2 linked regions of the Homo sapiens genome follow. The protein of the gene in region 1 interacts with the protein of each later gene in a pairwise test. Each region holds a gene or a part of one and is shown in the gene's direction. Other genes may lie near its edges.

Evidence for each region. The genes of interacting proteins can lie anywhere in the genome.
Region 2: the proteins of DNAJC5 (region 1) and SNAP29 come close enough for resonance energy transfer, tested with the Homo sapiens proteins (one study listed by BioGRID).

What each region holds. Positions count from the first base shown.
Region 1 is NC_000020.11:63,898,072-63,901,719, forward strand, and holds part of DNAJC5 (dnaJ homolog subfamily C member 5), read left to right. Parts: intron 1-3,648. UniProt on the Homo sapiens protein: Acts as a general chaperone in regulated exocytosis. Acts as a co-chaperone for the SNARE protein SNAP-25. Involved in the calcium-mediated control of a late stage of exocytosis. May have an important role in presynaptic function.
Region 2 is NC_000022.11:20,875,872-20,879,519, forward strand, and holds part of SNAP29 (synaptosomal-associated protein 29), read left to right. Parts: intron 1-3,648. UniProt on the Homo sapiens protein: SNAREs, soluble N-ethylmaleimide-sensitive factor-attachment protein receptors, are essential proteins for fusion of cellular membranes.

The sequences.
Region 1 (3,648 bases):
TTAACAATCGTCAGAGCTGGAACTTGAACTCGAGTCTTCTCTAGACCAGGTTTCTTCTAAGTATTTGGCATCACCAGGAAGAGCCCTGTACAAGGTGCTGGTGGTTTTATCCTTAGAGCCCAGATGTGAGGTGCTCACGTGTGTGCCTGGGGTTAGCAGTTGGTGTTTGTTGAATGAATGACTAAAATGCAGTGGGGCGGGGAGTCATGATAAGGTAGAATTTTATCTGAGGTGGAGTTTGCTTCTGAAATCAGGCAGTAAGGTGAATGTGATACCCAGTTAGGAGTATGTAATGCTGCAGGTAAACTGTAACAGCAAATGAAAGCAGTATTTCTCCAGGAAGGAAACAGACCCCTGGGTCCTCGGGCTGGGTTGGAAAAAGCCATTTGTAGAGAAATGGAACATGGTGGCTAGCCCTGCACAAGACATAGAGAAGAGACCCTTAACACTCCAGTTATCTCCAAGTGGGCAGTTAGAATGAGTGCTTCTAGGCCGGGCACGGTGGCTCACACCAGTAATCCCAGCACTTTGGGAGGCCGAGGCGGGCAGATCTTGAGATCGAGAGATCGAGACCATCCTGGCCAACATGGTGAAACCCTGTCTCTACTAAAAATACAAAAATAGCTGGGTGTGGTGGCGGGCACCTGTAATTCCAGCTACTAGGGAGGCTGAGGCAGGAGAATTGCTTGAACCCGGGAGGCAGAGGTTGCAGTGAGCTGAGATAGCACCACTGCACTCCAGCCTGGGCGACAGAGCGAGACTCCCTCTCACAACAAACAAACAAACAAACTGCAGTGCTTCTAAGGTGAGACTCATCGTGATGTTCTGATTAGAACGTTCTCGTGCCACAAAGTCCTGAGATGTGTCCAAGAAGCACCGTCTTCTGTCAGACACACCTCCTGCCCCGCCATAGGCCTTCCCACTGTGGCAGCAGAATCTGTGCTAGGCCTTCCTTCGTGAAAGAGGACAAGATCAGGGCTCACGTGACTGGGGCCGCTGTGACTCTGAGCCTCTGCGTTCTGTCAGATGAGGGTAGTGGTGCTTCCCCTGCGTCCTGCTGGGAGAAAAAAGGAGGCAGTAAATGAAAGGTGTCTCATCACCTGCTTCCTAAATAGAAGGGACAAAGAGGCTGAAAAACAGTAATAGTCTTGTTTTATGAAAATGCCACCCCTAATCTAGGAGCTGGGACTGCCATGCCAGGACCCCTCAGATAATGACATCCCTGAAGAGGATTAGCAGCTAGTCTGTTATCAGTCACAGGCAGTTCAACCCAGAAGATTTAAGGATTAGATTACCCAACAACCTTGAGTGTAGATTTTGTCTCTCATCACCCTTTGCATTAACTTTGGGTGCATGTGTGTTAATGAGGAAGTGTGTTCTGCTTTATTCTTGGTACATCACAGACATTTAATAGATACAGGTCATTAGAAATAAAAATTGTTTTAACTTGTATGAGTTTTGCAAGCATTGATATTTCAAATTGAAATTGCAGAAATTAGGACAGCATTTCATTTTCTTTTGTTTTTTTGAGACGGAGTCTCATTCTCTCACCCAGGCTGGAGTGCGGTGGCGTGACCTTGGCTCACTGCAACCTCTGCCTCCTGGGTTCAAGTGATTCTTCTGCCTCAGCCTCCCGAGTAGCTGGGACTACAGGCGGTCGCCACCACGCCAGGCTAATTTTTTGTATTTTTAGTAGAGACAGGGTTTCGCGGTGTTAGCCAGGATGGTCTCGATCTCCTGACCTTGTGATCCGCCCATCTTGGCCTCCCAAAGTGCTGGGATTGCAGGTGTGAGCCACTGCGCCTGGGCTTTTTTTTTTTTTTTTTTTTGGTTGGGGGACGGAGTCTCACTCTGTCACCCAGGCTTGAGTACAACGGTACGGTTTCCGCTCATGGCAACCTCTGCCTCCTAGGTTCAAGTGATTCTCCTGCCTCAGCCTCCTGGGTTGCTGGGATTACAGGCGCCTGCCATGACACCCGGCTAATTTTTGTATTTTTAGTAGAGATGGGGTTTTGCCATGTTGGCCAGGCTGGTCTTGAACTCCTGACCTCAGGTGATCCACCCACTTTGGCCTCCCAAAGTGCTGGGATTATAGGCGTGAGCCACTGAGCCCAGCCCCAAGTTGGTCTTGAGCTCCTGGACTCAAGTGATCGTCCAACCAGCATCTCATTTTCTAAAGAAAGAAGTACTTAGACCAGGTTTGGGACATGTCTCTGAAAATTCTGGGCTGGTGCAGTGGCTCATGCCTGTAATCCCAGCACTTTGAGAGGCCGAGGCAGGCGGATTGCTAGAGTCCAGAAGTGAAGACCAGGCTGGGCAACATAGCAAAACCCCATCTGTACTAAAACTAGAAACAATTAGCCGGGTATGGTGACATGCAGCTGTAGTCCCAGCTACTCGGAGGCTGAGGTGGTAGGATCACCTGAGCCTGGGAGGCTGAGGCTGCAGCAAGCCATGATTGCTCCACTGCACTCCAGCCTGGGCGACAGAGCAAGACACTGTCTCAAAAAAAAAAAAAAAAAAAAAAAGGAAGTTCTGTATTGATCAATAATTTCCTCCTCAGGACAGACCTGCATATGCCACAATTTAACTTTGTTGCAACATCATTCTACATTTTGCATGAATGGTTTCAAAAAACTTATTTCTATGACAGAGAACTTTGTCATTTATTCTTGACATATTAAACCTGAGTGACATTTTTAAATTTTTGTGTTGTGTTGTGAGTGCTTAGTGAAGATTCCTTGAATATGGATGTGAATGAATCTTATTTTTCATGGGTTTATAATTGTATTGTCCCTTTAAATATTCTACATTGAACATGTATCACCAGCAGAAATAATCATTTACGAGGTGAAGTGTCCAGAGCCATGTAGTGTCTGCATTGCTGTGTCCAGGGATTCTTTGTTTGTTTGAGACGGAGTCTCGCTCTGTCATCCAGGCTGGAGTGCAGTGGCACGATCGTGTCTCACTGCCGCTTCCACCTCCCGGGTTCAAGTGATTCTTCTGCCTCAGCCTCTTGAGTAACTGGAATTACAGGCGTGTGCCACCACGCCCAGCTAATTTTTGTATTTTTAGTAGAGATGGGGTTTCACCATGTTGTCCAGGCTGGTCTCAAACTCCTGAACTCAAGTAATCAACCCACCTTGGCCTCCCAAGGTGCTGGGTTTACAGGCATGAGCCACTGTGCTCAATCTGCGTTCTGAGGCATTCTGTGCCTGTTATGAAATCATGATGCTGGCAGGTCGGAAGATGGAATCGACTTCCCAGCCCCATCGGCTGTGCCCTGCCCTCCTTGCTGTCTCTAGAGCGCGGCTGACTTCGGGGAGAGCTCTCCCTGCCCTGTGCCTCTATTTTTTCACCAGGTAGGGTGGAAATGTGTTCTAGTGAAACTGCAGAACGAAAATATCCCGTCTTACTCTTGACCCTTGAAGAAGCAGGAGCTGAATTCAGGTGCCAGAGGCTGCGTCCGCGCGCTCCACATCAGTCTCAGAGTGGAGGCGAGCCCAGGCCAGAGGCCTCTACCCCGGACGAGGCTGCAGGTGCCTGACGGGAGGAGTGACTGCAGCTCAGCAGAGGGAGTGTGTGGAGTGTGCGGCCCTGCCTGGCTTTTATTTTGCTCCTCCTGTTATTGGGAGGGATTAGCAGCAG
Region 2 (3,648 bases), on another chromosome or scaffold:
GGGGGGCGGCTGGGTGCAGTGGCTCACGCCTGTAATCCCAGCACTTTTGGGAGGCTAAGGTGGGCGGATCACGAGGTCAGGAGATCGAGACCATCCTAGCTAACACGGTGAAACCCCGTCTCTACTAAAAATACAAAAAATTAGCCAGGGGTGATGGTGGGCACCTGTAGTCCCAGCTGCTTGGGAGGCTGAGGCAGGAGAATGGCATGAACCCGGGAGGTGGAGGTTGCAGTGAGCCAAGATCAAGCCACTGCAGTCCAGCCTGGGCGACAGAGACTCCATCTCAAAAAAAAAAAATGCAATAAATTGTGAGTAAAATTTTTGTGATCCTGTCAAAACCTTTAATCCATAAATGCAGGAATACTGTCACTTAAAAACTTTGCCTTTTTTTTTTTTTTTTTTTTAAGACAATGTCTCGCTCTGTCGCCCAGGCTGGAGTGCAGTGGTGCAGTCTCTGCTCACTGTATCCTCCACCTCCCAGGATCCAGCAACCCTCCCACCTCTGCCTCCCAAGTAGCTGGGACTACATGCATGGGCCACCATGCACTGCTAATTTTCGTATTTTTTGTAGAAACAAGGTCTCACTTTGTCTCCCAGGCTGATCTCAACCACCTGGGCTCAACTGATCTTCCCGCCTCAGCCTCCCAAAGTGCTAGGATTGCAGGCATGAGCCACTGTGCCTGGCCCACTTAAAAGCTTTTTTTTTTTTTTTTTGAGATGGAATCTCGCTCTGTCACCCAGGCTGGAGTGCAGTGGCGTGATCTCGGCTCACTGCAAGCTCCGTCTCCCACGTTCACGCCATTCTCCTGCCTCAGCTTCCCAAGCAGCTGGGACTACAGGCACCCGCCACCACGCCCGGCTAAATTTTTTTTGTATTTTTAGTAGAGATGGGGTTTCACCATGTTAGCCAGGATGGTCTCGATCTCCTGACCTAGTGATCTGCCCGCCTCGGCCTCAAAAGCTTTTAAAATAAGTTTCTCCTATCAAACTTCTGTTCAGTCATGCATTTCCTGTGTACATCATTATCACACAAACCCTTCGGCCTTCTCTGAAGTTTTGTCTCTTGGGAAGCCCTGTTTGTCCTTGCTGACAGCTTTCCAAGCTGCTTGTTCTCATTTCCACTTACAGCTCATGCGTTCCTGTCACATATGCACCCTTAATTTGAAATTCTCTAACTTATTTAAGACTTGGTTTCTGACCAGGAACCACCCTCTCTTAAACCTCTACTGTCTTATCACTTTTCTCAGTCTCCCTAGAAATTGGCTTTCTTGGCTGAGCGTGGTGGCTCACGCCTATAATCCCAGCACTTTGGAGGTTGAGGTGGGCGGATCACAAAGTCAGGTGTTCAAGACCAGCCTAGCCAACATGATGAAACCCTGTCTCTACTAAAAATACAAAAATCAGGCCTGGCACGGTGGCTCACGCCTGTAATCCCAGCACTTTGGGAGGCCAAGGAGGGTGGATCACCTGAGGTCAGGAGTTCGAGACCAGCCTCACCAACATGGAGAAACCCTGTCTCTACTAAAAATACAAAATGAGCCAAGCAAGGTGGCACACACCTGTAATCTCAGCTACTTGGGAGGCTGAGGCAGGAGAATCGCTTGAACCAGGGAGGCAGAGGTTGCAGTAAGCCAAGATCGCACCATTGTACCCCAGCCTGGGCAACAAGAGCAGAACTCCCTCTAAAAAAAAAAATTAGCCGGGCGTAGTGGCGCTCACCTATAATCCCAGCTACTCAGGAGGCTGAAGCAGGAGAATCTCTTGAACCAGGGAGGTGGAGGTTGCAGTGAGCCGAGGTCATGCCCCTGCACTCCAGCCTGGGAGACAGAGCTAGACTCCGTCTCAAAAAAAGAAAAAGAAAAAAATTGGCTTTCTTTGTGGGGGAGCCATTTTTCACAAAGAAACCATTGTTTTCCTCATTTATGTATTACCAGTATATATGTGATGGCACATAGAAAGAATAAAGCCAGCGTTGAGATGTGCAGGCTGAAAGGTGGCCAGGCAGACTCAGAAGCCAAGTGTCTCTTCCTACTCCCAGCATGGCAATGCACTGCCCACAGTGGTGCTTAGAGGAGCCAGTTCTGTGTTCTAGACTTTCAGTCACAGCTTCCGTGGGGTGAAATCCTGGAGTGTTAAATCCTTCCATTCACCAGGCTCTGCTGCATTCTACCCATAGCTGGAGCCCTGGGCCTGCAAAACCCTTAGCTTGCGGGAGTCTGGACTTGCTCTTGCAAGTTGGGAGTCATTAAAGACTTTAACTGAAGAGGTGCTTGCCAGTATTGCTTTAGAAAGATGCGCAGCACCCATGGGGAGTAAGGATTGGAAGGGAGGGAATTGAATTGAGAGGCATTGCCATAATCCTTGTTAAAGGTAAAGAAAAGCAAGGCAGGCCGGGCACGGTGGCTCAAGCCTGTAATCCCAGCACTTTGGGAGGCCGAGGCGGGCAGATCATGAGGTCAGGAGATCGAGACCATCCTGGCTAACACAGTGAAACCCTGTCTCTAAAATACAAAATACAAAATAAAATACAAAAACCCTGTACTAAAAATACAAAAAATTAGCCGGGCGTGGTGGCGGGCGCCTGTAGTCCCAGCTACTTGGGAGGCTGAGGCAGGAGAATGGCGTGAACCCAGGAGGCGGAGCTTGCAGTGCGTGGAGATCACGCCACTGCACTCCAGCCTGGGTGACAGAGCGAGACTATGTCTCAAAAAAAAAAGGCAAGGCAGAAGGAGAGGCTGGGTTTCTGGGCTACTTAGGGGGTGGGAGATCAAGAGGGCGTTTGTTTTGCCTGGATTACTGGGAGTAGCGCTGTGCAGGGGGAGGGCAAAAATTGCGAGTAACCCTGATTCCCAGATTGGCTGGCGAAGTGGTCAGGCTGCTGTTGAGATAGAGGAGAGCAGGCTGTTGGGGAGGCACAGCTCCCAGCTGGAGGCACCTGCCATACCTTAGGGGGCTCAGCAGGATGTCGGGGATCAGCAGGGCATCAGGCATAGTCTAAATGACTTTGAGTTGCAAGAGCTATCCCTGTCTACAGCCAGAGTCAGCAAACTAGGCCACGGAGCAAAATCAAAGATATTTTATAGGGACTTACGTGATGAGAAAAAAACATACTTTCACAACTTTTTAGTGACAAAATTTAAAATATAAAAACAGTGGCCGGGTGCAGTGGCTCACGCCTGTAATCCCAGCACTTTGGGAGGCCAAGGTGGGCGGATCACGAGGTCAGGAGATCGAGACCATTCCGGCTAACACGGTGAAACCCCGTCTCCACTAAAAATACAAAAAATTAGCCGGGCGTGGTAGTGGGCGCCTGTAGTCCCAGCTACTCAGGAGGCTGAGACAGGAGAATGGTGTAAACCTGGTCAGCAGAGGTTGCAGTGAGCCGAGATCGTGCCACTGCACTCCAGCCTGGGCAACAGAGTGAGACTCCATCTCAAAAAAAAAAAAAAAAAGTAATAGGCTGGACACAGTGGCTCATGCCTGCATGGCTGTAATCCTGGCACTTTTGGAGGCTGAGGCAGGGGGATCACTTGAGTAGGCACCTGTAATCCCAGCTACTCAGGAGGCTGAGGCAGAAGAATAGCTTGAACCCGGGAGATGGAGGTTGCAGTAAATCGAGATCACGCCACTGCACTCCAGCCTGGGCAA